Linked DNA regions of Homo sapiens: region 1 is linked to region 2. Evidence: fine-mapped expression QTL. Tissue or cell type: CD8 T cells. Region 2 holds a variant in brackets; the other region holds the start of a gene. All regions are shown on one strand. Distances are from middle to middle.

Evidence for each region.
Region 1: RNF14 starts here. The variant in region 2 is fine-mapped to the expression of RNF14 in CD8 T cells (CEDAR, PIP 0.90).

What each region holds. Positions count from the first base shown.
Region 1 is chr5:141,960,275-141,975,704 of GRCh38, forward strand. It overlaps RNF14 (ring finger protein 14), which reads left to right and starts at 8,831. Exons shown (of 9, transcript NM_004290.5): 1 at 8,831-8,893; 2 at 10,430-10,603; 3 at 13,309-13,468; 4 at 14,530-14,681. The coding sequence starts at 13,315. LOC124901095 (a long non-coding RNA gene) reads right to left here and starts at 9,506. Exons shown (of 3, transcript XR_007058977.1): 1 at 9,334-9,506; 2 at 2,817-2,940; 3 at 2,273-2,351. RefSeq lists a silencer at 8,614-8,753 and an enhancer at 8,864-9,013.
Region 2 is chr5:141,991,584-142,007,013 of GRCh38, forward strand. It overlaps GNPDA1 (glucosamine-6-phosphate deaminase 1), which reads right to left. Exons shown (of 7, transcript NM_005471.5): 4 at 14,561-14,743; 5 at 13,349-13,533; 6 at 11,505-11,679; 7 at 9,088-10,546. The coding sequence ends at 10,446. Among named protein-coding and RNA genes, the nearest start is that of GNPDA1, 14 kb to the right of the region's middle. The variant C/CAAA (reference allele first, on the strand shown) is at 4,532.

The DNA of each region.
Region 1 (15,430 bases), 31 kb before region 2:
AAAATGAAAGGCGAGAGGCCAGTAGAATGGCTCTGGAATCAGGCCTGGGGGTCCGGGAGGCTCCTCATGGAGGGCACACGCTGAATCCTGACGGACCTGGAGGAGTGAGCCCGAGGAAGTTGAATAGGCAGGAGACAGGCAAAGCTGGTGGCAGGGGCAAAATGGGCAAAGGCCCCGAAGTGGGCAGGCTGGCTCCTGGCTGTGCTGCAAGAGGGTCAGTGCAGTAGTGTAGGGAGGAAGGTTGGGCAGGGGACATAAGCAGGGGTCCTCAGATGATGCAGTGGCCTGGGTTCCCATGGCTAAGAATTTAGACCTTGTCCTGAAGGTCGTGGAGTGCTTTTGAAAAGCTCTACGCAGGATAATGAGAACAGCGACCACATGCCAGGCCTTGTCCTAAGTGCTTTACCTACATCCTCTCATGACGCACTCACAGCCATACCATCACATTGAAGATGCTGAGCACACAGCGTTAGGTAACTTGCCCAAGATCACACAGATGTGCCCTCCAGAAAGGCCTTTTGGCTGCACCCTGGAAAATGGCTTGGAAGGGAACAGAGAAGAGGGAGGGAGCCTAGTTGAGAGTAATGCAGGGGAGCTTTGATGCAGAAAACTCGTTTCCAGAGCGCCATCTGGTGGCCAAAGGCAGAGAAAACGGCACAGAGGCAGGGACCGGGGACAGCCACGAAAACAGGAAGTGGGTGCCTGGGGTTCATAAATATCCACAGCTCCAGCCCCGTGCTACACAGAAGAATACAACAGGAGAAGCTACTCACTGATGACAATAGTATCTCTTAATGGAAAACCTAACGTGGACCAAGGCCACAGAAGGAGTTATGGAATTCATGATAATTTTACTTGTGTTAACATTTATATTCTTCAGAGGACATTGTTTTATCTATATATATTTTACATGCAGTTATATATCTGTTGGGTGTGTGTGTGTGTGTGTCTGTGTTTTGACTGGGAATGTGAATGCAAAAAAATGATGCATAGGTCGCAAGAAAGTTTGAATTTAGATTTCATAGGTGGTTTTTATTGTTTGTTTTATTCACACTGGGGACATGAAGCTAAGATTACCCTTTGAGATTTCAAAGCTGGCAAACAAGGCCCCAGACTTTTTTAAGGTGATCACCTCTGGAAATGAGGTCCCCATTTAGCAATTTTCTCTCCTCCTTCTGGCTGCAGGGGTCAGCTGATCTTTAGCAGTCAAATGCCAAGGGGTGAATGGAGCTGTCACTAGAGTTCGTCTGGAAAGGCGACGTTTTCCTGAGTTTTGAAAATAGGTTTGAAGGAGTGGAGGTACTCTGAAATAGGTTTGAAACAATTGAGGACAGCCTCCCTTAAGTCCAAAATATTTTTTTTAAAAGGGCAGGATTAGGGTTTGTGCTTGAAGGCCTCACTAACCACCAAACTTGGGGTTGTTCACACTTGGGTTCTTAACCACAGGGAGGGCTGAGGGGTGAAGTGGGAAGGGTGGGGGTTCAGAGAATCTTCTTAAAACACCTGGAGTCCTAAGGAACCTTGAGGGGTCAGACTAGTAAGGTGTGACTCTGACCCTTGGAGGACTCCCAGGCCAGCTGAATGAAGGCTGAGATCACACCTCGCCCCTACGAATGTCCCGCTGGGCTGGCTGCCCCACTTCCAGGGCTCTGGTCTTCCAGGCTTTCTCCTCGTGAATCTCCCCTGTGGTTGCCACAGCATCACCACCAAGACAGCTTTGGGGAAGCCAAGAAGCATCCTCCGGCTTATCCCAGGTAGGGAGGTGGTTGGACCGTCCAAGCTCAGCGTCTTTTTTCAGGAAGATCTTGTTGAAGTTAGATTCCTAGTCAGACCAGGAATCTTGACTGGGAGACTCAGGTAGATGTTCTGGGTTATCTGCTCCTAGCAGGGCACTTTGTGGACTTTGTTGAGACAGATGACAGGTGCTGTCTCCCACACAATGGCACCTGTTTCTGGGGTCAGTGCAGAAAAAAGAATGCACTTTGCAGGGAGAAATTTGCCAAGAAATAGGACCTTTCAAGAAATGAAAAAGCTTTATGTCTTGGTTAACAGCGGCAGTTCTCAAAAGGGTCCAGATATCGAAGTCACTTGGAAAGCTTTACAAAATACCAGGGACAGGGCAAGAAAATTCATACTTTTCCCTTTCCCAGAATACTGCCAAAGAATAGTCTGTAATTGCCAGCTCAGTTCCGCACCCTTCATTTGGGACAGGGTTGGGGAATTTGATTGGACCTTTTTGCTGGAAAGAGAGGCTAAGTTGATTTACGTGATAAAAATAAATAGACGGGAGGAGGGAGATTTCTGCAATCTGAGAAAATTCTGGAGAGCAATACAGCAGACAACAGCAGAGGCTGTGAAGGAGGTAGAATGAAGATGAAAAGGACTTTTGAATTCGTTATTGCAAATTATAGACCTCCTTCATGATTTTCAAGAAAAATACAAGAAAAGATTTGTATGTTCTTTTCCAAATTTATTTTGTGCGTTAGTAACCATAACATGGACCCAAAACTGGACCACTTGAGTTCTGGGTTGATAAGAGTTACACACACATGTCTTTCTCCCCAACCTTCGAGAGGAAGGGCACTACTTCTGGTGTACAGATTTCAATTTTGATATATTCTGGGTGATTCCGACATGCATCCTTATCTCCACCCCAACTTCATCGAGAACCACCTATTAGAAATTCTCAGAATCACCATCCCCCATTGCAAAGGCCAAACTCTATAGCGATCAGGCCTTTCTTAACCCAGCATCCTCATGGTCCCCACCTCTCCCTGACATGTGTGTCACTATTCATTATAGAGTTCCATACTCACCTGGTTCTCTCTCCATATTTCTGCAGACTCCTCTATCTGCCTCTCTGGCTCCTTCTTTGGTTTTCCTTCCTTCTAACTCCCAGGTGCAGGCATGTCCCCTAGAAGCTATCTTCTGTCCTTTCCTCTACGTAGGGTTATTGGTCCAGAAAGGGGTTGCCAGATTTAGTAAATAAAAATACAGAGTGCCCAGTTAAATTAGAATTTCAGATAAACAATGAATAATTTTAGTATAAATATTTTAATCTGACAACTCTGCCCAGAAATAATGTATGCTTTCAACACAAGTTCCTTTTTTTTTTTTTTTAAGAATTTTGGTTTGCACAGTGAATTTGAAAATCTATTAGTAAACAGAAAAAAAAATCAAACATATTGACTGGGAGCATCATCTGTGCATGAATATTCAGAAGCGAACTCTGTTGATTGGCCTTGTTATGTGTTCAGCATTTCTGGGTGACTCCAAGATCGAACTGTTTTACACGAAAGAACCACCCTGGAGGAAGCCTAGATTACACTCATTTATTAAATCATTCAGTCATCCAGTCACTCATTTATTTGGTGGAATTTAGCATGTTCCTCTCTATTTACAAGGTCATTTTTTTGGCAAGGGAAGTAGCTCAAGTTGACCCACATTTTCCCTTCCTCTAAACCATTGGCTTGGTTTTTTTCTTCATATAGAATCTAATCGGCCTAATTCTCTCCTTGCTTCAGAAAGGCTCTTGCAGGAAGGAAAATGAGTCTTCCCATCGTTACATAAATTCTCATGGGGCTTCCCTTTATAAGTTTATGACAGCCAGGAGTTGAGCCTGGAGCTCTGAGAGAAACAGCCACACACTGATTTATGATGGCAGCTGCTGCTAAATCTCACCCCTCTTTCCTCCTTACAGAGCCATGTTACCTTGGGGTTACAAAACTCTTTTCACTGTTATTCAGGGGAATAATAATAAAATGCCAGGTTGCGAGTATAAACATGATCATTCTGTGCCTATTATTGTAAATCAAATTTTAGCTTGCATCAAAAGCACAGAAAACATTTTATACTGTCAGCCACCTCAAGCCCTTGTAGCAGTCTGTCTTTATATAACCCTGGGCTGACCTGACCTGAGTTATTGTTTAGGTTGCACTGGCCAGGGAAGCTGGTCACGCAGGTAATCTGGCTATTTCTCCTTACAGACCCAGCTGACCACTTTCCTTGAGCCAAGTATTGACTTGGTCTAAGCATAGCAATGGGGTTAATGATGTGGGCCCAGGGCACCAATTGCCTGGGTTCAGGGATTGGCTCTGTAATTTACCATCTGTGTGACGATGGCAAGTCAATTATCTATGATCAGTTTCCTTAGCTTTAAAATAGGAATGATGATGATGATGATGGTGCTATGTTATAGGGTTGATGTTGGGTTTAGCTTAGTTAACATACAGCACTTAGAGTGGGGCCTGGGATATAAGTAGCACTTTAAGCGTTATTTATAATTGTGCTTCTAGTGTAGGCACTTCCAATTTTTTAGGATGAAGCCTCTATTTTTTTAAATTTTGTTTTATTTTTTGAGACAGAGTCTCATTCTGTTGCCCAGGCTGGAGTGCAATGGTGCGATCTGGGCTCACCGCAACCTCTGCCTCTTGGGTTCAAGTGATTCTCCTGTCTCGGCCTCCCGAGTAGCTGGGATTACAGGTGCCCGCCACCAAGCCCGGCTAATTTTTTTTTTTTTTTTTTGTATTTTTAGTAGAAGCAGGGTTTCACCACATTGGCCAGGCTGGTCTCAAACTCCTGATCTCAGGTGGTCCACCTGCCTCGGCCTCCCAAAGGGCTGGGATAACAGGCATGAGCCACCACGCCTGGCCTGAAACCTCTAATTTTTTTTAAAAAAAAACAATGTTTCAGAGGCCCACATGATAATAGACTTTTAAGATCTACATGATGAGCAAATACACAATGACAAGAGACCAGCAAGAAGTCAGGGACACTTCTGTACTGGGGTAGGGCTCATTAAGGTTCAGTTTTATCCAAAAGTTGGGCAGGGTTTTCCTCTCCACACTGCTGCCCCTCTGTGTTCAAGGGCTTGTTGCAGGAGTGCTTGCGAGTGGTGGCCATGGAAAAGGAGGCAGTCCCCCCTGGGATGGTGGGATGAGTTCAGCAAAGTTTCGGGACAGCTACCAGATGCCAGTGATGGATGGGAACAAATGCAGGCACCGTCAGGTCTGCTAACCCCTATAGTGACAAGCCATAGTTTGTGACTCACTTCTACTCTCCACTCCGTGGCCTGGGTCCCGACCTCTGGTCTAGGTGGTACACTGTAACCTCTCCTCTCCCTAGGCTCCGTCATCATCCGGTGTCCCTGGGGACAGGGGGTGGGAGTTGGGTCTCTTTCTCTGTCTGTGTTCTCATTCTCACCTATCCTTAAGTCATAAACTCGAATCCTAACTTCCCCAGGGCCTTCCCGTTTAGTTCTTAAGGCCAGAACTATTTTACTCTCTGTGAATTTGTTACAAAAAACCCTTATTCTCTGACAGGCTCCTGGAGAGAGTCAGACTGATGAGGAATCGGCTCTAACCCTGGCTCCACCACTGTGTGATACTGGCCAAACCTTAGTGCCTCCATCATCTTTAGCAAACTAGCACAGGAACAGAAAACCAAATACCACATATTCTCACTTGTAAGTGGAAGCTAAATGATGAGAACACATGGTCACAAAGTGGGGAACAACACACACTGGGGCCTACCTACTACAGGGTAGAGGATGAGAGGATGAGAGGAGGGAGAGGATCAGGAAGAATAAAAAGTACTAGACTTAATATTTCGTCACTGGGTGACGAAATAATCTGTACAACAAACCCCCGTGACACGAGTTTACCTACATAACAAACCTGCACATGTACCCATGAACTTAAAAGTTAAAAAAAAAAAAAAAAAGTGGCCCAGGCGCCGTGGCTCACATCTGTAGTCGCGGCACTTTGGGAAGCCAAAGCGGGTGGATCACTTGAGCCCAGGAGTTCAAGACCAGCCTGGGCAACATGGTGAAACCCCATCCCTACTAAAAATACAAAAATTAGCCAGATGTGGTGGTGTGCACCTGGAATCCCAGCTACTCAGGAGGCTGAGGCACGAGAATCGCTTGAACCCTCTACCGGGAGGCAGAGGTTGCCGTGAGCTGAGATTGTGCCACTGCACTCTAGCCTGGGTGACAGAGTGAGACTCGGTCTCAAAAACAAAACAAAACCCCAAAGTATAATACACCTGACTTCAACTTTATGACATTGCTGTCTTTTATTACATCTTTTTATATTAAAAATAAATAAAAATGTCATAAATAGTAATTGTGTAAATATAAAAGGCCTTATTAAAAAAACAAATCTTAGTGCCTCAGTTTTCTCTTCTGTCAAGTGGGCACATAAAATTACCTAAGTCATAGGGTCCTGGGCATTTAAATGAGAGAATGTACGTGAAATATTTAGCACAGTGGAGGGCTAGGCACACGGGGAGACTGCAGTTTAAAAGACTAACCAGGCACATGAGACCAAAGACACAAAAGTCTGTTATTTTCCTAGAGTCAAAAACAAAACTTATTAGAAGGCTGTCTTTACCCAATCTTGTCCTCAAAATTGACTCTAAATCTTTAGTTCACTTTAAACATTCAGTAAATTATTAACACTGCTTTGAAATTCTCTTTCTATTCTCTCTATCCTGTGACCTCTGACATGATGTCACAATTCACCTTCTGCTCTGACTTTGTGAGGATTTCCCAAGCTGGTTGGTGCATGGGCTTCCTCACTTTTTTCCTCACGAAGAGGTCTCTGGTCTCCCCTCTCTGAGCACTCTGAGGTAGGGTTGCTGTGTGTTTTGCTCTTGGTCTAATTCCTTTGGCTAAACATGAATAATTATATTAATGAATGGCTTTGGAGATTCTTCTTCCGTCCTTTGCATTTTTCCGAGATATGTTTCTGGTTTTGGTATCTATTAGAAGGGTATTTTGGTTTCTGTTTTGTGACAATCAAGATTTATAGTACAGAAAATTAGAAGTGATTATTTCTATTTCAAGGTTCTTTCTGTGGCAGCCAGGTAATCCCTTGGGTGCCCTGATTTACTCACTTGGTTTTTTTCTCTCTCCTGGGTATAAGACCAACTACATAATTTACAAAGCCCAGGGCAAAATAAAAATGCAGCCTCTCATTCAGAAATTATTAAGAACTTCAAGAGGGTGAGAGCACAGCATCAAATCAAGAGCAGGGCACTTCTTTTTTATTTTAATTTTTCCATAAGTTATTGGGGTACAGGTGGTATTTGATTACATGAGTAAGTTCTTTAATGGTGATTTGTGAGATTTTGGTGCACTCATCACTCGAGTAGTATACACTGCACCCTATTTGTAGTCTTTTATCCTTCGTCCCCCTCTCATCCTTCCCCCTAAGTCCCCAAAGTCCATTGTATCATTCTTAAGAGCAGGCCACTTCTAAATCTGGGGCCCTTCTAAGTGCAGGGCCCTATGTGACTGCACGGGTTGCTGGCCCATGAATCTAATCCTGCCCGGGAGGCAATGGTGGTAAAAGCTTTAGAATCCTGTAGGCTTGGGTTAGAGTCTTAGCTCTGCAAGTTACTCTTTTGGAGGAAGAAATATATGAAAAAGCGGACACAGGAGCTTATTAGATTGTGAGGAGCACATTAGTTTGATGGGTCCCAGGAGAAGGAGCCAACATTTCTGTATTCCACTTAAGCGCTGAGAACGGTGCTTTGTACCTAAAAAAATTTTTTAATTAAGACATAATTCACATGCAATAAAATTAACTCTTCAAAAGTATACAATCCAGTGGTTTCTAGTACACTCACAAAGTTATACAACTATCACTGCTCTCTAATTCCACAATATTTTCATCACCCAAGAAACACCATATCTATTAGCGGTATCTATTAGCAGTCACTTCCCATTCCCTCCTGCCTTAGTTTCTGGCAACCACTAAACTACTTTTTGTCTCTATGGATTTGCCTATTCTGGACATTTCATATAAATTAAAAACAATATATGGCTTTTTGTGTTTGACTTTTTTTTTTTTTTTTTTGAGACGGAGTCTCGCTGTTACCTAGGCTGGAGTGCAGTGACTCACTGTAACCTCTGTCTCCTGGGTTCAAATGATTCTCCTGCCTCAGCCTCCCTAGTAGCTGGGACTACAGGTGCCCGCCACCATGCCCGGCTTATTTTTTGTATTTTTAGTAGAGACGGGGTTTCACCATGTTGGTCAGGCTGGTCTCGATCTCCTGACCTCGTGATCCACCCGCCTCGGCTTCCCAAAGTGCTAGGATTACAGGCGTGAGCCACCGCACCCGGCCTTCTAAGGGTTTTATAGTTTTAGTTCTTACATTTAGGTCGTTGATCCATATTTAGTTAATTTTTGCATATGGTGTGAGGAAGGAAGTGTATAATTTTAATTCCTGCTTAGCCTGACGATAATCATGTGACCCTTGGTAAGTTCTTGCACCTAAGTCTCAATTTCCTTATTTGTAAAGTGAGAATAACAAATGGTAGCTAAATCATAAGATTACAGTGAAGATAGAAAATTTACGTAGAGCATTTATCACACTGCTTGAAGCATCCTAACTACTCGATAAATGCGGTCGGTGTTACAGTTATAACATGAGCGATGAATGCGTGCTTCCACAGTGGAGTGCCAGAAAGACCGGCAGCATTTCTGAGAAGGTAAACGGGAGGAAGTAGGCTTGCTTAGTCCACTTGGAGAAGCAGGTCTGGGATTGTTGTGAGAGTCTCTGCCCTAGGTAGACCACTGCCTCATGATCCCCTCTAGAGATTGGTAAAAATTCGAATTCTCGGGCCCCATCAGAACTACTGAAAAGAGCCTCCTGTGAGCACAGGGCTCGCAGTAAGTGGGGGTGACGGTGGTCGCGCCGGCAGCGCCGCCTTGGGCCTGCGGGAGGCGCCCGAGAGGCAGGGGCGACCACGGCGGCTGCGCAGAGTCCTCCCTATGCCGGCGGTCGCGCCAGCGGGATCCGCCTGGCTCAGCTGACAGCTCCCGAGAACGGAAGAGGCGGCGCGCCGGTTGAGCAGGGCGTCTCTAGGCCTGGTCGGCTGGCGGCGGTGAGTGGGCCCCAGGCAAGGGCGGAGGGCGGAACTTTGGGGTTCGGCACTGCCGGGCGGCCGGAAGGTACGGTGGGGATAGCTCTCTGGGCGCGCGAGGCAGAGAAGGGGACCGGGCTGGGACTGTACACTGGGCCTCAGTCCCTCAAATCCGGGACCGGGCGTCCGCAGCTCGGCTGGCCGGGACTCCCTTCGGGACGCTGAGGAGGAAGGGGAAGGTGTGGGCCCTGCTCCTTCGGGACGCCCCAGGCTGGCCAGCAGCTCACACATCCGCATTGCGCCCTCTGATCCCAGCGTTGGGGCGGATAGCTAGCGTTGGGCCTGCCCCTGTTTTGGGGCAGTCGCCCAAACGACGCCGCACGCCTAGTGGCGAGCTGAACCCAGACTAGGACACCCGAAGACCAAATGGATAGAGTGAGAAGGAAATGGGGGTTAGCAACCTGAATTGAGGTACTGGATTCCAAGTGACAGCTTCACAAGCTGAAATCTTGTAGGGTAGGTCATGAGGAACTGTTGAAACTGCTTGGAGTAGAAGTTCTTAGCCCTGGCTGCATATTGGAATCACCTGGAGAACTTGGAAAACTACTGAGGCCTGAATTAATTGTTCTAGGGTGTGGCCTGGGTATTGAGATTTTAAAAAACAGCTCCTCAGAAGATTCTAATGTGCAGTCAGATGGAGAACACTAACCTAAAACCATAAACTGCATGAATGAATCTCTCATCCCATTTGCAAATGTTTTAACAGGAAGAAACAAAAAGCTTAATTCAATTAGCACCATATACTCCCACCTAGTAAAATAAGACAATGTGAAAGGACCTAATACAGTACATAGTAGGTGCTCAATTAATGTAAATTGATTCTGAATCTCATTCTTATCTCATTTGGGAGTTACACATCCGAGAATCTGGTTTTTAATTATGGTTTTGTATATAGTATTTTTGCATATAATTTTAGGGTGTTGATAGGATTCTCCGTAGCCCATCTATAGACCACACTCCCTTTTCCCCTCACCCCAGTGAAGAAGCCTAGCTCTAAAGCATTTAGAATAAAACTTAAAAGTTTGTGTTTGTGTACTCTTGTTTTGTTTAAGTATTTTTCTGTTACCAAAATTAACCTTGAGTGCCACTGGCAGGCTTAATTCATGAACAAGAGAGGAAAAACTGGAGGGGAGTGGCAAATGAAGGAATACAAGAAGCAGAAGAGGAAAGGAGAAAAAAACAAAACAAAAAACAAACTGAAGAGATTGTTTGTTATGGGGCATGGTGTCCTGTACTTTCATATGACCTTGGTGTTCCTCCTTAGCTCCTCCCATAGCTGAGGGCAGACAGATAAAAAGTCCTCAGTCATTGCTGGGGACATGCAAATACTCCTTTAACCACATGGCTCAGTTAGCCTGCCCTAGGAGAGTAACATGCACTTGTAGATTAGGATTGGCTATATGTTAGGATATGTTTGACTTAAGCAGTGATCATGGAAATTCAGAATTTTAATTTGGAGAGGGTCCTAACACCATCTTTTGTATTTCTTTTCTGCAGATGGCAGGATTTTCATAATATATGTAGTATGAGTTCCACATCTTGGCCTCTTACCCAGCTTCAGCAGTCTCAGCTCCACCAGTTAGAGAATAAATGGGATTTGCATGAACTCCACTCTGAGCTGAAATACAGACTGCGGTGTTAATATCCTTTTCTTCTGATTGTTATTAACAGGTACTAACTGACCTCAAGTAGAACATGTAATTGTGTCTTAGATAGGGATGCAGCTTAAGCAGAGCCATGAACTAACATCTCCTAGAAAAAAAGTGTTTTTTGAAAATGAAATCATTTTTAATTTCATAGTATGACCTTTTAAAATGTAAAAAATCCTAACTTTTTACTTATGTACATTTTAATTAAAAATATTTTAGTTGTGAGGGAGGATATTTGCAAATGCAATTGTAGTTCAATATTTTAATTGACTGGTAGTTTTGTTTTATTAAAATGATTTTTGTAAATTCTCATTGCATATTTTTTTCACATTTAAATTATCTGAAATTGCTGTATCTTTCAGTTGATGCTATTTTAAAAAACATTGATTCATACTTTATTTTTTGAGACAAGGTCTTGCTCTGTCCCCCAGGCTGGAGTGCAGTGGTGCAAACACGGCTCACTGCAGCCTCAGCATCCAAGGCTCAAGCGATCCTCCTGCCACAGTCTCCTGAGTAGCTGGGACTACAGGCACACACCACCACACCTGGCTAATTTTTTATAGAGACAGGATCTTGCTATGTTGCCAAGGCTGATCTCAAACTGCTGGCCTCAAGTGATCCTCCTGCCTTGGCCTCCCAAAGTGCTGGGATTACGGGCATGAGCCACCATATCCAGCCAGTTCATACTTTAATTGTAGCTAATTTCTTTTTCTTTCTTTCTTTCTTTCTTTCTTTCTTTCTTTCTTTCTTTCTTTCCTTTCTTTCTTCTTTCTTTCTTTCCTTTTTTTTTTTTTTTTTTTTTTGGAGACAGAGTCTGTCTCTGTCACCCAGGCTGGAATGCAGTGGTGCAATCTCAGCTCACTGCAACCTCTGCCTCCTGGATTCTAGTGATTCTCTAGTCTCGTGCCTCAGCCACCGAGTAGCTGGGATTACATGCGTGTACCACAATGCCCGGCTAATTTTTTTATTTTTAGTAGAGATGGGGTTTTGCTGTGTTGGCCAGGCTAGTCTTGAACTCTTGGCCTCAAGTGATCTGCCTGCCTTGGTCTCCCAAAGTGCTGGGATTAAAGACTTGAGCCACTGTGCCTGGGCCTTGTAGCTAAATTCTTAGTATTACCTAAAATAATGGTAAATCTTTCTTAAAATTATTATCTTTTAAATATTCTTGAGTCATAATGGTGAATCTTTAAATTGGTGACTGCTTGGATTTGACAAAATCTATTATTTCAAAAATTTAATATTATTTTGCTGCTTGCTCAGTTATCTAATTTTCTTCCATAATATCTATGCCTGTAACATTCTCAAGCACTGTTTTCTCACCTGGGAGCAATTTTGCCTCCAACCCCCATCCTGCCCCAGGACCTGGCGCTATTTGGAGATATTTTTTTTTTTGAGACAGGGTCCCACTTTGTCACTCAGGCTGGAGTGCAGTGGTGCTATCATGGCTCACTGCAGCCTCGACCTCCCAGGCTCAAGTGATCCTCCCATGTCAGCTCCCCAAGTAGCTGGGACCACAGGCAAGCACCACCACACCTGGCTAGATATTTTCAGTTGTCACAGCTCTTGTGGGTGGAAGCGGGCCACTATTGGGTATCTAGTGGGTAAAAGCCAGGGGATGCTGTTAAGATTCTATAATGCACAACACAGCTCTCCAACAACAATTATTTACTTCAAAATGTCAATAGAGCTGAAGCTAAGAAAACTTGCCCTAAAGATTCCTGTGGATTTAAAAAATTTACTTTTTTGTTTTTTTGAGACAGAGTCTGACTCTGTCGCCCAGGCTGGAGTGCAATGGTGCAATCTCAGCTCACTGCAACCTCTGCCTCCCACGTTCAAGCAGTTCTCCTGCCTCAACCTCCCGAGTAGCTGGGATTACAGGGGTGAGCCACCACACCCAGCTAATTTTTGTATTTTTAGTAGAGATGGGGTTTCACCACGTTGGCCAGGCTGGTCTCGAACTCCTGACTGCAGGTGATTTGCCCGCCTCGGCCTACCAAAGTGTTGGGATTACAGGCACGAGCCACCGCGCCTGGCAAATTAACTTAAGAAAGGAGTGTAATATACTTTGACCACTTTTGCGAACCAGGCACATTGCTAGGTTCAGTGGACAAGTCAAAGTAAATTTGTGATTTGTCCTTTTCAAAGAAAATTTTCAAATTGTGCTTTTTTTCCTCTAATTCAGTCATAAAATATCTAACTGATAAGATCAGGAATTAGAAGTACCACAACCATCCCTTTTGAAAAAGACTGTTAATATTGCAAAACTAATGGAATGCCAGATATGGCTGTCATTTTTGGTTTAGGAGAAAAGTGATAATATCGATTAATTCTTTGCAGTTGTTTTTTGTGCCATTAAGCTTTTTCCACCTCTGTGCATTTTCTTTTCTTTTTTTTTTTTTTGAAACGGAGTTTCACTCTTGTCGCCCAGGCTGGAGTGCAGTGGCGTGATGTTGGCTCACTGCAGTCTCCACCTCCCGGTTCAAGCGATTCTCCTGTCTCAGCCTCCCAAGTAGCTGGGATTACAGGCACCTGCCACCACGCCTGGCTAATTTTTGTATTTTTAGCAGAGATGGGGTTTCACCATGTTGGCCAGGCTAGTCTTGAACTCCTGACCTCAGGTGATCCGCCCGCCTCGGCCTCCCAAAGTGTTGGGATTACAGGTGTGAGCCACCACACCCGGCCAGCCTCTGTGCATTTTCTGTTCTTAACTGATTTTAATGTTTTCAGGTCCTTATGTCGTCAGAAGATCGAGAAGCTCAGGAGGATGAATTGCTGGCCCTGGCAAGTATTTACGATGGAGATGAATTTAGAAAAGCAGAGTCTGTCCAAGGTGGAGAAACCAGGATCTATTTGGATTTGCCACAGAATTTCAAGATATTTGTGAGCGGTTAGTTAATAATTTCTTAAACAGATTTTTCTATTATTCTTTATTTCTTAGTGTACCTTAAACTATTTGTCATTTTGTGTTTTAGGCATTAGTGATAGGTGGTAGTATTACAGAGGTAATGCATGTTTCTGTTTTAAATGAAAATTGCAATGAGGGGCAAGCAGTTTTCAATTTGATTCTACCTTTTTGATCACTGAAGAGGGATATTATCCTGCATATTTCATACATCCTGGTCTGCTAACTAGCAGTTTATCAGCCATGAGTCATTGGCTGTTACATAGCAGTAATCAAAGAGAAAATGAATGTATGTGAAAACGCTTAGAAATTTTCAAGTACAGTGGTGGTGGTTAATACTATTTGGTTTCCAGAATCATTTCAACTACTATAAACATATGACACATGCTATTACTCTGTGACCTTTTGCTTCAGAAAAAACAAAACTGCTGCTTTTGATACAGACATTTACAGAAGACTTTGATGCACACTTTCTCAAAATGTTTCTACTATAAAGGGATTGAGTAAGGAAAGTAAGTGTGGTAATTTAAATGAAACTTTGATTGTGAGAGTGTTGTGTGCTATATTATATCCTCAAACCTGAGATCATTGTGTTGGCACAAATTTTCCCAACTGATTCATGGGTAGTTGGGACATGCTGGTCTAAGTGGGACATGCTGGTCTAAGTAGGTCATGCTGTTCAATGGAAATGAACATCCTTTCTCTAGATTGTGTCTTCAATCATCCACTGTAAACCAAACCACAACAAAACAAACATTGTGTGTTCCTTGGTCATTAGTGTTAGGAATTGTACTCAGAAGTGTATACAAGAATAAGTTGTAGTATTTTCATTATACATTTCATGGTGCTGTAGATTTTTCAAGGGCTTACAAGATTTTTTTTTAAGGTGGTGGCTACGAAGTTAAAATTAAGAAATAGAAAGTGCTTTGGGGGAGGGTTTTTATTCCCTCAACTAAAGCATTAAGTCTTTCTTGAGCGCTGCTCAACAGTAGTGGACACTCAAGTGTTGACCAACTGATCCTTTCTAATCTTTGTTTTTGGTTCAGGCAATTCAAATGAGTGTCTCCAGAATAGTGGCTTTGAATACACCATTTGCTTTCTGCCTCCACTTGTGCTGAACTTTGAACTGCCACCAGATTATCCATCCTCTTCCCCACCTTCATTCACACTTAGTGGCAAATGGCTGTCACCAACTCAGGTTAGACTTGAAACTTAATTTTTCCTATCCATTTTTAGAAACTTAAAAATCACCTTTAATTGAAGACTATCTTAAAGATCTTGAATTCAGTGCATGAAAAACAAATGGCTTTGGTTTTGTAATTTTTTTCCCTTGCCTTGGTGAATCCTGATGTTAAGAAATTGAAAATGTTTGGTGTTTTAAAAAGGAATGGCAGTAATTAAAACAATCATGAATTGTAGTAGGAGTAATTTTTAATCAAGTATATTATTTCTTTTCTTGTCTTGCTATTTTCCTGTTTAATCTGTATTATAATGGAGACTAAGAGGTCTTCCTCATTTTCCTTAGACATTGATACTACTTTTCTCTTAGTTTCTTATCCATTCCTTAAATGAAAGATTCCATTGTAATTAGGACTAAAAATTGAGCTAATGTAGTTATAATAAGCAAATTTTCTGAGTGAATACAATAACTGATTTTCTTTGTAAAAATCTGTATTAATAACAAATAACAGTCAACTGGTATCACGTAGACATAAATGCATACAAGTAGAAATGTGTATAGTTCCTGTAGATATCTCAGTAAGGCTTGAGGCCTTATGTTAAGCACCTCATTTCCTCTGGGTTATATATACTTTTCTAGTAACAACCTCAACTCTTGATTGAGACATAAATATGGCTTGAAGCTAAATATAAATAATATAAAGCATTCTGGGAGAGATAATGAATCAGCAGCTGCTTTTCTAGAAGTCATAATGAAGATCAATAGAC
Region 2 (15,430 bases):
GCAGGAGCCAGAAAACTTTTTGAAGACAGATTACCTAATCCTAGCAGGCTCAGCAAATCAGTGATTTCTTTTTGACTGAGGTCTTTTGTAGCTTTAAATCAGTTACTTCTCAGGATGCTTCAGTGCTGTGTATGCAGTTTTAGGCTGTTCACCTGTTCTGGTAATTTTCCTGCTCGGCTTCTTGAAAAACATCATTAAACACTGGGCAAGTTGATCAAGTCAGGAAGTCAGCTGGACCCATTAGACTGTGCCCTGGTGTGAGAATTAGCCTGCCATCTTGGCTAAATCCCGAAGTTTGTTGAGTAGATGTATCCCTTCCTGTTGACCTGTGGAGGAGCTGGTGAACGTAAGAAAGGCTCAGTATCAGAAGCCATATTCCCAGACAGATTTGTGGTGTTAGTCAGCAGTCTTTTTTTTTTTTTTTTTTGAGACGGAGTCTTGCTCTGTCACCCAGGCTGGAGTGCAGTGGCTTGATCTCGGCTCACTGCAACCTTCGCCTCCCGGGTTCAAGTGATTCTCCTGCCTCAGCCTCCCAAGTAGCTGGGATTACAGGTGCCCACGACCACACCCAGCTAATTTTTTATTTTTTATTTTTTTTAATTTTTAGTAGAGACGGGGTTTCACCATGTTGGCCAGCCTGGTTTCGAACTCCTGACTTCAAGTGATCCACCCATCTCAGCCTCCCAAAGTGCTAGGATTACAGGTGTGAGCCACCGCACCCAGCCCAAAGTCATTTGCCCAAAGTCATTTTTTTAGTAGTAGACAGTTCTAATTTACATTAGTAATCTCTTCATATACTTTGTATTTATTTTTTCTGTCAAGAGCAATGAGAGTTAATTAGAGGAGATAATAATAAAGTTGTTCACGTGGCTGTCTGCTTTGAAAGGGAATTTCAGAATTTTGACTGGAGTTTGGATCTCCCTCCTACCTAGTATTAACTTTGCCATAAGCATCACCAGCAGGTGGCAGCAGTTCCCATGTTCTAAAAATATCGTCACTAGTTAAGACAGGTATAGAGTATGTTGTTTTGTTACAGAAGTAGATTTAATTTCTGGTATTTAAATTTTCCTCATTATATTTCATTATAGTCTGTTTTATACTTTAGTAGACAGAATGGTATCTAACAGTACTATCAAGGCAGGAACAGCAGTATTATCAGAAATTTTTAAATACTCAAAAGTGTATGTGAACCACAGTTGACATCTTATGCAATTGTTACATAGTAGAGTGTCACTCCTGATAGTGGCACTTAACCTTCAACCACCAAAGTAGGGAAATTAAGTTGTATATAAAGCCCCTAAGTAGGACCAAGGAATTGTAACCCCATGGTGCCCTCTGATGCTGGTAAGAGTAGCCAGCCTGCTCCCCAAACCTTAGCTTAACTAAAAAAATCAGGCCAGACTGAGTGTGGTCAGAAATCTGGTTATGGGAGCTTTAGGGGTATTCTTAGCCAATGTTTATGGTAATAATCAACTTTCATCACCCATCGTTTAGACTGTACAGTTTCTCAGGTTGTCTGAAGATTTACCACTCCAAGGACTCCCACATTTCTCTGAGCCAGAGGATGCTTTGGAGAAGATTGTGTACATTGGAAACTTAGGGAGATTTGATGCTGAAGTTGCTAAGTACAAAGTTAACACAGTCACTTCTTTTCCTTGCTTGGATCTCCTTTTTTCCCTTCATTATAAAAACAAACCAAAAAAGGAAAAGCAGCTAAACTCACACTAATACAACATAAATACATGTAAATTTTAAAAGCGATTGTCTTACCCTCAGTACCATTCTACTTTTTGCAACCTATAGTATTTCCTAGAATAACTCACTTATTTAACAAATACTGATGGAATACCCAGCAATGGGCCTTACTCTTTTTCAAGGTGGTGAGAATGTAGCAGTAAATAAAACAGACATAATCTCCCTGCCCATGTGGAACTTAAATTCTGGCGGAAGGAAAGAGACACTAAGTAAATTATCTGGTTCATCAGAAGATAAGTACCATGGGTCGTGCGCAGTGGCTCCCTCCTGTAATCCCAGTGCTTTGAGAGGCTGAGGTGAGTGGATCACTTGAAGCCAGGAGTTTGAGACCAGTCGGGGCAACATAGTAAGACTCCGTCTCTCTTAAAAAACAAAAAAACACTAAAAATTTGCTGGGTGCAGTGGTATGTGCCTGTTGTCCCAGCTGACATTCAAGAGGCTGAGGCAGGAGGATTTCTTGAGCTCAGGCGGTCAAGGCTGCAGTGAGCCTTGATCACACCACTGCATTCCAGCCTGAATGACAAAGCAAGACCTTTGTCTCAAAGAAAAAAAAAGAAAAAAAAAAAACCATAGAAGTTGGGGAGAAGAAATAGGGAGTTAGGGGAGGCAGGGCAATGTTGGAATCTTAAAGAGTAGAGAAGACTCCATCAAGATAGCACTTGAACAAAGTCTCAGCAGTGTGGGATTGAACCTTCTGGACACCTGGGAGGAGAGAATTCCAGGCAGAGACAGCAAGGGCAAAGCCCTTGGGCTATGAGCATGTAAGAGGGCTCCAGGAACAGTGTGGTAGCCAGTGAGGGCTGAGGCAGACCCAGGAAGAGTGAGAGACGGGATGTAAGCATGTGGTCCTGTAGACTGTATAGAGCCTTGTGTGAACTTTGGCTGCCACTCTGAGAGGGGGCCATTGAGCAGAGGAGTGATAGGGTCAGGCGTGTGCTTTAGGGGATTGGTGAGCAAAGGTGGAAACAGACCAGTTAGGAGGCCATTTGCAGTAGCTCAGGTGAGAAGTGCAGGTGGCTTGTACCAGTGTGCCAGAAGTTAGAATTTTGAGAACTGGTTAGATTCTGTACTTACCTTGAAGGTAAAATTAATAGGATTTGTTGACAGGCTGACTATATGAGAAATTAAGGCATCAGGGTTGATTTCTAGGTATTTTTGTCTGAGCAGTTGAGATGAGAAACCTGTAGGTAGCACAGGTCTGTGGCTGAAGATCAGGAATTTGGTTGTGGACAGGTAAGTTTGAGATGCCTGGTAGTTATCCCAGGGGAAATGATAAACAGGCAGTTGGATATTCTAGTCCGGAGTTCAAGGGAGCAACTCAGGGTAGAGATAGAATTATGGGAGTCAACATGTAAATGGCATTTAAAGTCATGAGACTAGATGAGATTAGAAAGGGAGTGAGTTTTATGTAGAGAAAGGTCCAAGGACTGAGTCGTGGGTCACTCCAGATGCTAAGAAGTCAAGGAGATGAGGAAAAACCAGCAAAGACAGACAGTGGCCAGTGAGGTAGGAAAACCAGCTGTGTGTGGTGTCTTGGAAGCCAAGTCAAGTTTGAGGGAAGGAGTAATCAACTGTGTCATACGCTGCAAAAAGGTCAAGTACTGTGAGCTGTAACAATTGAAGCAGTCAGTATTGAGGTCCTTGGGGACTTTGACAAGTGCTGTTTCAGTGGAGGGCAGTTGCAAATCTAGAGTATGTTTGAGAAAGAATGGGGTGTCCTCATAATAAGAAAAAGGCTAAGCAAACCGATAATCAACAGCTTTTCTTACATCTGTCAGAGAATTGAGGTCACAGGGCAAACCTTCACCGCAAAAACAGGCAGGAAAATGGAGATCGGCTCACCTAAGGCAGAAGCTGTTGGAGACAGTAATTGAGATTTAAACATATTGCTGTGGGCTAAGTGTGGACTAGCTTGAGGGTTCAAAACCGGGAGCTTGTCTAAGGGAACCCCACACTTTGGTGGGTTTTACCTCGAGGAGACCCACTAGGTTCTCCTGTAAAGATGGCAGGAAAATTCCCTTGTGCTTTGGACACGGGAAGGGGGAAAGTAATCCTTTTGAAATACATCCAGGAAGAAATCAGCCCCAGATCTTCTGTTCTCCATGGCAGAGAACAGTTTTCTCAGGGAAAACTACTTGCAGAAGCCTTCTCTAGCTTAGGAGAAGGGCAGTTGGATGGCTCAACCCCCTTCTAGCCTTCCTGTCTCACATAGGAGGAGGAAAAAACAAGTCTCCACTAAAAAAAAAAAAAAAAAAAAAAAAAAAAGACAGATTTAATCATAAGAATATGCAGTGCATCTTCTCACCAATACGATACCATCAGTAGGGCTCCAGGATAACAGTGGATTACAACTGAGAGCTGCAAGACATGGACTCTATTTTAAGAAGGAATTTCTAGGGAAACCCAAAGACAACAGGGGAGACAAGGATATTGAGGAAAATTGGAGCCTCTAGCACCTACAGCGAACATCAGATGCAGCCTGTTAGCCAGATAAACATACAACTCACATTAAAGGTCTGTTTACGTAAGTTCTTGTTACCTAATATATCATGTCTGGCTTCAGTAAAAAAGTACAAAGCATGCTAAAAGGGAAAAAAGAAGAGACAAAGCGAGCATCAGAGCCAGACTCAGATATGTCAGAAATTTGAGAGTTATCAGACTGGGAATTTAAAATAACTGATTAATGTGCCAGATTTCTAATAGAAAAAATGAACAACATGCAAGAATAGTCACGTAGTATAAGCAACAGATGGAAACTTAGAATCAAAAAGAAATG[C/CAAA]AAAAAAAAAAAAAAAAAAAGACCAGGTGCAGTGGCTCACGCCTGTAATCCCAACACTTTAGGAAGCTGAGGCGGGAGGATCACCTGAGGTCGGGAGTTCAAGACCAGCCTGACCAACATGGAGAAACCCCATCTCTACTAAAAATACAAAATTAGCCTGGCGTGGTGGTGCATGCCTGTAATCCCAGCTACTCGAGAGGCTGAGGCAGGAGAATAGCTTGAATCCGGGAGGCGGAGGTTGCAGTGAGACAAGATCGTGTCATTGCACTCCAGCCTGGGCAACAAGAGCGAAACTCTGTCTCAAAAAAAAAAAAAAAAAAGCTAGAAATAAAACACTGAAACAGACATGAATGACTTTGATGGGCTCATAAGACTGAACACAGCCAGAAAGAATCAGTGAACTTGAAGATATGTCAATAGAAACTTCCCAAATTGAAATTGAAAGATTTCAAAAAGGAATGGAAAATTTTTAAAAACAGCAGAATATCCAAGAACTGTGGGATAATTTTTAAAAGTGTAGGTTGGATGTAGTGTCTTACACTTGTAATCCCAGCACTTTGGGAGGCTGAGGTAGGCGATTGCTTGAGGCCAGGAGTTTGAGTCCAGCCTGGGCAACATGACAAAACCCAGTGTCTACAAAAAAAAAAAAAAAAAAAAAAAAAATACAAAAATTAGCCAAGCGTGGTGGTGCACACCTGTAATCCCAGCTACTCAGGAGGCTAAGGTGGGAGGATCGCTTGAGCCCGGGAGGTGGAGATTGCAGTGAGCTGAGATCATGCCACTGCACTCCAGCCTGGGCAACAGAGAACTTGTTTCCAAAAAAAAGGCAAAGTGTAGCTACGCGTAATGGGAATACGGTAGTTCCCCCTTATCCACAGTTTCACTTTCTATGGTCAACTGTAGTCCAAAAATAGGTAAGTGCAGTACAATAAGATTTTGAGAGGGAGAGAGACAATGCTCACATAACTTATTACAGTGTATTATAATTATTCTATTTTTGTAAATTTCTTACTGCGCCTAGTTTATAGATTAAGCTTTATCATAGGTATATGTGTATCAAAAAAAACTATCAGGTTCAGTACTATCCACGGTTTCAGGCATTCACTGGGGGTCTTAGAACATATGCCCTGTGGATGAAGGGGCGACTACCATACCAGAAGGAGAAGAGAGAATAGAAGAGTGAGAGATTAAAGTCAGAGTATGGGTAACTAGAAACTTTACTCTAAAGGAGATCAGAAAAATGAGGATGTACTTAGGGGGCAAATGAGGTACAGTTTTGTTTTTAAATCTTGTCTTGAATGCCATAGGAGTGGTCCAGGAGAGGACAATTTGATGCTGTAGGTGAGAGTTGGGAGTGTTGCCAGAGCAACGTCCTCAAGGAGGCAAGAGAGGATGGGATCTGGTGTGCAAGCAGAGGGCTCGGCCAAGGAGCAGGTAACAGGAAGACAGCAAGTGTGAGAGCAGGGCTGACGTCTGGGTATGTGATGATGGGAACTCGTGGACATTCTTTTCTGATTGCTTCTGTTTTCAAGGTCATTAGCTGAAAGGAAAGCTGGGATAGAGGGGTTAGAGGTTTGGGACCTTATGATTTAGTCTTTGAGGATACTAAATGGACTAGTCTGATTATTAATGTAGTATGACTGCCAGCTGGTGGTAATGGCTCCCCTGAGGTCCAAAGTACTATGTTCTGTTTTACCTGCCCATTATTGCATAACTCTAAATCCTGTCACACTGTATCTTACCGGAAATGGACGTGTTTCATTAGCATCTCATCACAGTAAGGATTTTGGTTCCCAGGAAAGAAGCATCAAATTTTCCAAGTTAGATCTCCTCAGTAGGCCAGTTGGCTAATCCATTATGTAATATGCCATGATTTCCCCTGATTGTTATGTACGATCACTACTCATGGGGACAACTATCAGGCTTATGGTTCAACAAGTACCAGTGCCTTCTAGATATCAAGGCACTGCTATAGGGGCAGAATAGAGCAGTATTTAACATCTACCTTCATGGAGTTTACATTTAGTGGGAAACAAAATACACGTCCAGTGGTAAAGGGTTCTGAGAAAATAGCGCACGGCAAGGATAGGAACTTGGGGATTGCAGCTTTATATTGGAGGATCAGGGAAGAGTTAATCTGATAAATGACATTTGAGGCAAGGCCTGAAGGACGGAAAGAGTAGAAGAGTAGGCCATAGGGGTAATAGCCAGGCTCTTGTGTTCACCTCTACTTTATAAACAGACTAATAGAAGGAAGGTGGCACCCATTGATGTCAACACTGCCACTTTTTACTAAATGTAAGTAAACACATTCTGTCTACTCTTCCTGAAATACAGCTCTGTGTGCACTTAATATTACATTTTCCTTTTCTTATCAAACTTGCTGTTTTACAAATTCAACTTGTTCCAGTCAGCTGTATTTAGTATTTCCTTTTTGATCAAATTGTGAAAACCTGTTCAGTGGGAACCCATTTAACTGGCTGTTTCGTCCTCTCAGAACTGCCTCAGACATTTTTGTTTTGTTTTTTTTCATCCCCAGACTTCCTGGGACAAGCCCCAGACTTTTTTTTTGGAGACGACGTCTTGCTCTGTAGCCCAGGCTGGAGTGTAGTGGCATGATCTTGGCACACTGCAACCTCTGCCTCCTGGGTTCAAGCGATTCTCCTGCCTCAGCCTCCCCAGTAGCTAGGATTACAGGTGCACGCCACTGCACCTGGCTAATTTTTTGTATTTTTAGTAGGGATGGGGTTTCACCATGTTGGCCAGGCTGGTCTTGAACTCCTGACCTCAGGTGATCCGCCCGCCTCAGCCTCCCAAAGTGCTAGGATTACAGGCGTGAGCTACTGCTCCTGGCCAGCCCCAGACATTTTTGAAAGCACCCTTATTTCCAGTAACAAGATATTCCAGGCCTACTCTGATCCCTACCCCCAAACATATTAGCTCCTGTACAAGGAGCCCTGGTATTAGAAGCCCAAGATGACCCAGGGGTGTACATCCCACTTGATCGCATAAGCACTGGTTGTAGCAGTACACTGCTGTTGAGCCACCAGGAAAACACAGACTCAGGAAGGACATCAGATCTTTCTAAGGTCTCAAGTTCATACAGGTATCTCCAGTTTAGCTGTCATCACTAAGTCCTTTTTTGTCTCATTTTAATGTAGTTACTATAACATACTTAAAATTTAAACCCTTCTTGACTGGATAAACAAAATATATGTCCACAAAACGGAATACTATACAGCAATAAAAAGGAATGGACTGCTGCTACGTGTTGTATGAACCTGAAAAATGTTATGCTTAGTGAAAAAAGCCAGACACAAAAGATGTCATGTCACATGATTCCATTTATATTAAATGACCAGAAAAGGTAAATCTGTAGACGCAAAGCAGACCAGTAGTTGCCTGGGGCTGGGGTTAGGAGTAGGGAGCTTTTGGGAATGATAGAAATGGATTGTGATGCTGGGCGCGGTGGCTCATGCCTGTAATCCCAGCACTTTAGGAGGCCAAGGCAGGCAGATCACTTAAGGCCAGGAATTCGAGACCAGCCTGGCCAATGTGGTGAAACCCTGTCTCTACTAAAAATACAAAAATTAGGTGGGTGTGGTGGTGCACACCTGTAATCCCAGCTACTGGGCAGTCTGAGGCAGGAGAATCACTTGAACCCAGGAAGCAGAGGTTGCAGTGAGCTGAGATCGCGCCACTGCACTCCAGCCTGGAAGACAGGGTGAGACTTTCTCTCTTTAAAAAAAAAAAAAAAAAAGGATTGTGGTAAGGAAGTGCAGTATTCTATAAACATAAAAATCATTGGATTTATATCAAAAAAATATATTTTTTTGAGATGGGGTCTTGTTCTGTTGTCCAGAGTTGGGGTACAGTGATGCGATTATAGTTCACAGCAGTCTTGAACTCCTGGGCTCAAGCAATCCTCTTGTCTCAGCCTTCTGAGTGGCTGGGACTACAGGCATACACCACCATGCTTGGCTAATTTTTAAAAATTTCGTAGAGACAGGGTCTTGTTATGTTGCCCAGGCTGGTTTTGAACTGCTGATCTCAGGTGATTCTCCTGCTTTGGCCTCCCAAAGCACTGGGATTATAGGCATGAGCCACTGCACCCAGCCTCAAAATAGTTAAAAAAATTAAACCCTTCTTTTAACTTCTATATCTACCTCCTTAATTGGCTATATTGCCCTAAGATATTCCATTATATTAACTTTAAAAAAAAAAAAACCTATATGTATTTTTGCATACCTTGCAATAATATCCCTCATCACAAATCTGCCTTAATCTTTATAACAGCTGTATCCTCGTTTGGATCTCAGGTACAGCCCCAACATGACAATTTATTGCTCATCTGTTCATTCCTACCCTTTTTCCTGTAAGTGCTCCATTTTCATAAAATCTTATTTTTCACTCTGATGATGGTTGCTATGCTTGTGGCCTTCCTGCAGGCTCTTGTGAGGACTGAATGTGAGGCTTTGCTTACCAGCTCTTTCTAAAATATATAAATAGCCCAGAGAGTCTTCTAAAATTGGGGGCTCAAATCCACAAATGACATGTTATTTGAAAATACTGGATTTAATAGAAAATATCACATTGTAAACAAATCCATTGATCCATGAGCTTAAAACAGAATGACGGCACAATCACATAGAAAAGCTAAAGACAAAACACTGGTACCAAACATAGCCCTTAGGCCTGGGCTAGGCTCTCAAAGGTCTTTCCCAGAAATGGAGGCAGCAGTAGCTTCAAACAGGCACAAAAACAGCCAGGAGGAGGCAGCATCCACTCCATGAAGGCCTAAGACAATGAAAGGAAGCCAGAGCAACAGACCACCTTGGGATCCGGGGAGAAGGGTAAATGGGCAAAAGGGTTGTATTTCCTGATGCTCTCAGAACATCAGACCACACCATGTGAATTTAAGCAGGACTATTTTAAGTGGGGAAACAATACTAGAAGCATTTGGTGTATTTTCCTGGCACTCACCTCCTAGGTAAGCAGGAGAGCGGGACACTCAGGAGTTGTGACTAAACTCACACTTAAGCTGCCTGCCCAGACCGTCCCCTTGGCTGAACACAACACTGAAATTGTGGCAGTGTCTGTTGCCCCAGTGGACCTCCCACTTACTAATGAGTATGTAAAACAGAGGAGCCACAGTGAGGCTTTCACAAAAACACAGGGCTCTGGGGGAAAAACGGCTTCCACCTTCTGCCTTTTGGTGCTGGAGAGTCCCTGAGGGAGAGAAGTTTGACGTGGCTGGGCCCCTTGAGGCTCTGGATTTATCAATAGAAGCCTCCTCTTTGGCCCCACCCACCCAAATCCACCCCCAGGTTCTCCTAGTTCAGAGAAAAGCTGTGAAAGTGGAAGAAGGAAGGGATCGTTTTCTTTCCATTGCACTTGTTACTGACCAAAGAGACTGCTTCCTTGCACTTATTTTAGATATTGAGAGTTTGTGCCTTCACTTGGAACAATGGTTCTCAACCAAGGGGCAGGCCTGTGCAAGAAGGACTCTCAAGACTCTTCAAAGAGGTGGTATCCAATATACATAAGCCCCTAATTCCCTCCCACTTGAAAATCAGTGCGTGTAAGGAGAGAAATTCCTGACGGGAGTGTGTCATATGTGTGAACCATGGCTGAAGCAGAACAAAAAGTTTAAAACTCCCAACCTGGGTTTGGCAGACATCAAAATGATGGAGTACATTTTGCAGATATTTTTTTTCTGATTAAGTTACAAACATTCTCCCTATAGCTAAACTCCGTGACTAGGCTCCCAGCCTCATGGCCAAGAACAATAAGTTCACCCACTTATCTGGAGTAACCATACTAGATTAAAGAAATACAATTCTTTCTTCTAAAGACAATTTCCAGAAAGACCTGCCTTTCCCTATGGGTACTTGACACTAGGTCCCAGCACAGGCTAATCGCTGTATGGTTTCTTCGAAGATTGGCTTTTCTCAGTTTCTTTCTCTTTGATACTGTACAAGGGGTCCACCAACTTGTTATGAACAAGCATTAAACCTACAAAAAATTAAAAACAAAAAGTAGTTAATTCAGGCAGTGGCAAGAGTTCCTTGATTATCAATCATAACATCCAGGAGCTCTCAAATTTTGTCTTAGAGCTGACACTTCTCTCTTTTCTCTATGATCCCCAAATGATAAACACCCTAAGAGTATAAAAAGAGTTATTCACAGTGAGTACTACATTCATGGAACTTTTATAAATTCAATCACTATGGGAGTTGGCTATTTAAAGGTTAGTCTTTTCAGCAAAGGACAAATTCCTAATTGACCTACTTGAGTAAAAGAGGATTTTCACATGTTTGCCTAAAGCAGTGTGCATCCTTTTAAAGTAAAAGAAGGGCTGGGCATCGTGGCTCACACCTATGATCCTAGCACTTTGGGAGGCCGAGGTGGGTGGATCACCTGAGGTCAGGAGTTTGAGACCAGCCTAGGCAACATGGCAAAACCCCGCCTCTACTAAAAATACAAAAATTAACTGGGTATAGTGGCGGGCACCTGTAATCCCAGCTACTTGGGAGACTGAGGCAAGGAGAATCACTTAAGCCCGGGAGGTGGAGGTTGCAGTGAGCTGAGATCACACCACTGCACTCCAGCCTGAGCGACAGAGTGAGACCCTGTCTCAAAAAGAAAGAAAGTAAATAAAAGAAAGGAATCGCTTGTTTAAGATTTGAAAAGAGAAAACCTGAGGCTTAATGGCACTGTGAGGTCACCACATAGTCCTTGGACCACATTGCGTTTTCTTTCCTCCTCCTCAGAGCAAACAGATCTCCAGAAATGGATCTTTGCAGTCACAGGCAGAAGAGAAATGACTGTGTAGTGTGATGCAGTTGGGTTTGATATTTCTTAAGATTACAGTTGTCAATTAAAATGACCAGAGGATGAAAGCTGGATCTACTCCTTACTCCTAGCACACCCTAAGCTTGACCACCTCCTCCTGGACCCACACCTCCCTCACCTTTGAAATACTTGACAGTCTTCACTTTCAGCTCCAAGGTGGCATCCTCGTCACACACAAACACGGTGCGGGGATGCTGCTGGAAGGCAGACACGGTCCACATGTGGTTCACTCCCTCCTCGATGGCCTTGTACAGAGCAAATGCCTTGTGAGCACCTGTGATAAGGATCATCACCTGGGGATCAGAAAACAAGTCTGTGATGGAGGGGAGCATTCCAGACACCCTAAACAGTTGTAAGGATGATTGTTTTTCATATCACATTGTAAGTGGTTACCATGCAACATACTTTTGCTCAGTGCTCCCTGTGCTTTATCACACAAATAACCCGAGGCAGGCAGCATCATTATCTCCATCTTATAAGAAAACAGAGCCCCAGGGGGTTAAATAACTTGCCCAGGGTCATTTATGACCCCAAAGTTCATGTTCTTGACTACCACGTGACAGTGCCTCCAGGTATCTTTGATGATGACTATGAAGGTGCCCTGTAAACAGACATGCCATGCCCAGGCCTGCTATCCCATCAGCTGGGTGACTCTACACAAGCACAGTTTGTGAAAGAGGGCTCCCAACCTGCACCACCAGCAAGGGCACTTTGCAAGCAATGGTGGGAGTTATCTGTGGGGCCTCTAAGGCTGAATCCCAGAAAGGTTGCCCCATTATCTGGTCACTTTCAGTTCACAGCATTAAACCTATGAACTAATGTGACTTGGGGTGATGGTTTTTGTTAATATATAATAAAACAAAGGCACAGTCTCCACTTAACAGTTAAAATATCGAGAATGTAAGTGATCTTAAAGAACTCAGCTCTATTCAAGGGCAGGAAAAGAGAAAAAAACTCAGTTCTGTAGATTTCCTTTCATTTTAATTCACATGTGCCACAGAGTTGTGAACAGGATTTACTGTTCCTTTCTTAAAAGATTAGAATGCAGAAGCAGAGAGGGAATGTGACTATTTCTTCCGGACCCCTCAGCAACCCAGAACTCTTTAGAAAAGATAATTTCCTGATTTCCAGCCCCAGGTCCTTTCCCAGATCAAGATGCCCTCATGATAAAGACGGCCCTAAACCTGTTTCCAAGCTGCAGAGCTAAAAACAGCGAGTAAACACCCCCACCCCACGTACTGATTGAAGATTACCCAACAGAAATCTGGGTGCCATCACTCATTTCACAAAAGTTCACTTTAAACAGGGAAGTTTTCACTGATTTAGATGCTTGTTTATTGGCTTGGGCAAAGAAATGTAAATCTAACATGTCTATACACGTCAGAAAGGAAGAGAAAATGCTTCTAAAGTTCTAATGAAAATAAGGAAATTGGAACCACAAAAAATTCACATTCAAATGATAGCCAATTTTTTAGGGGAAAAGCTAAATTCAGTTTAAAACACTTATATTTTAATCATACTTCACCACATTTATTAATCTCTGAGCACGGGGCTAGAAGCACAAGCATCCTTGGTGTCCCAACAGTGACCTCTACCAACTACAAGGAACAAGGGAACCCCTCTCTCCATACCTGGTCAGGTACAAATATTCCAACATTAGCGATGCTGGCCTCCTCTCTGCCTGTGAAAAGCATGAAAGGGGCCTGAGGCCAGAGAGCCTGCTGTCTCAGGCAGTCAGCCAAAGGCACCAAAAACGTGCTCAAGGGATTCACCTCACACTGGGAATAATGATGTCTTCCAAAGACGCAAGAGGAACAGTGAGTAACAGGGTCAGCAGGGATTTTAGCCTTATTTACCATGCCTTCATCTTTAATAAGAATGTAGGTGGTACCAGTATAGTTAAGATTAACAAGAGAAAGACAAGTCCACCAGCGCAAGCTGGTGGGGCCCTTATGCCCTTACCTCTCTAGCATCCATGACAGTGCCCACCCCCACCGTCAAGGCCATGGTGGGCACCTTGGTGAGTTCTCCATCGAAGAACCTAGCATTGGCCAGGATGGTATCCATGGCCAGCGTCTTCACACGGGTCCTGGACACCAGACTGGAGCCTGGCTCGTTGAAGGCAATGTGTCCATCAGGGCCGATGCCTATAGGGAGAGAGCCCGTGCAGCCCTGTCAGTCCCAGGGATCCAAGATTTCAAGAATGGACAATCTCTCCTTCCCTAACTAGGGTCTGAAGAAAAATCATTGAAAGCTGTGTCACCTTTCTCATTTGCAGCCCTGGGCAGGTACACCTTAAACATGTGATCTGTCCCCCTCCCTACCATTTCTTTCTCTTTGCCATACTGTCTCAGAGGAGACCCTCCCCATCATGTCTATCTGAGGCACACACAGACATTGTTAACTTGCTATCACCCTCAAAAAGCTGAGGAGGAAACACTCCAAACAGCTTCTGCCTCCCCAGATTGTCAGAAAAGTGGACCTTCTCTGTCTCTTCTGCCTGTAGTTAGAGGGTCCTGCTGCTGGGATAGAGGTGCAGTGAACAAAACACCCAGAGAACCTGGACAGGGGCTGCCAAGGTTCTAAAATCTCAGAGGATGAGAGGTCCTGCCCCCCTCCTCCCCACCTTGAAGTATAGAAGAGTGATCTCTAGAGCAATAAAAGGCAGTTCAATGTTACCCCTCATGGGTAACTCCAGAGGTGGCGATAGATGGATACACAGAAGGGCAGCCCAGAGGACCCGAGCACAAATCCAAGAAGCACACACTTGCTCCCACCTGTGAACCTTGAGTGAGTCACCTAACTTCTCTGGGGTTCAACTGGCTATCTACAGGGGCTGTGTGGAGCCTTCCGGAACTACATGAGTCCATGATGTTAAATGTTTAGATAAGTTCCAGGACTGATCCATAAAACCTTAAGACTGGGGAGTAGACAGAATCTCAGAGTCCAAACCCAAACCTCTCAGTTTACAGACAAGGCATCAAACTGCAGAAAGAGATCTCCAAGATAACATAGTTCCTGAGTAACAGAGCCAGGCAGGGCCCATTTCTCCCGCCTCTGTCTCTACGGTCACTAGCACACCCAGAAGAAGCTGTCTGCAGACAGGCATTGTGTCTTGTCCTCCTTCCCACGGGTCTGGCCCTGGACATGTGTGCTGCAGAGTGTCAAGCTCACCTCCAACAAATAGCTCGATCCCACCTGCAGCCTTGATCTTCTCTTCAAAGGCATCACATTCTGCCTGTAGGTCGACTGCATTCCCATCCAGAATGTGGGTGTTTTCTGGGTGGATGTCAATGTGCTTGAAGAAGTTGTTCCACATGAAGGAGTGGTAACTCTCCGGGTGGTCTCGAGGAAGGCCTGTGGGGCCGTGAGACACTCGGTTATGCCTAGGCCAAGCCAAAGCCCCTCTCCTAAGAAGGATGCCAGGACACCATGCTGACCTACAGAGACACTCCCAGGGGTCTGCCCATCTGGGAGCCTTAGGCACCAGCCCTCTGACCCCTAGCCACTCGGCACAGGCTGAGCCAGTATCCATAAGTGTCCACCCACCCAGTACCACCATCTGTGGCCACAGGGCTTGGCCAGAGTAACTGCACACCAAGGGCCTGGGAAATCCCCACATTCTGATCTGATCTGCTTTTCATAAGGCAATGACCATAGGTTAGAGGCTGGGGACACTCTGGCCACCTGGGGTAGGGCTGAACTCATCTTAGAAAGCAAGCAAGCACACCCCTCACCCTGTGCCTCTCAACCCACCATCCACTCCCAGTTCTACCCCACTCAGCCTGAATAAATCCCAGCTTGAACACCAGGTGGTTAGAGAGAACTATCTTAGGGCTTCCCCAGATCAACTTTTTTTTTTTTGGCCAGGAAAAAAAAATAATGTTTAATGTTAAGCATTAAGAATATGTAAAATCAGCCTTAAAAAGGAAGGAAATTTTGACACACACTACAACAATGGATGAACCTTGTGGACTTTATGCTAGGTGTAAGAAGCCAGTCAAAAAGACAAATACTTTATGATTCCAGTTATATACTCTAGTT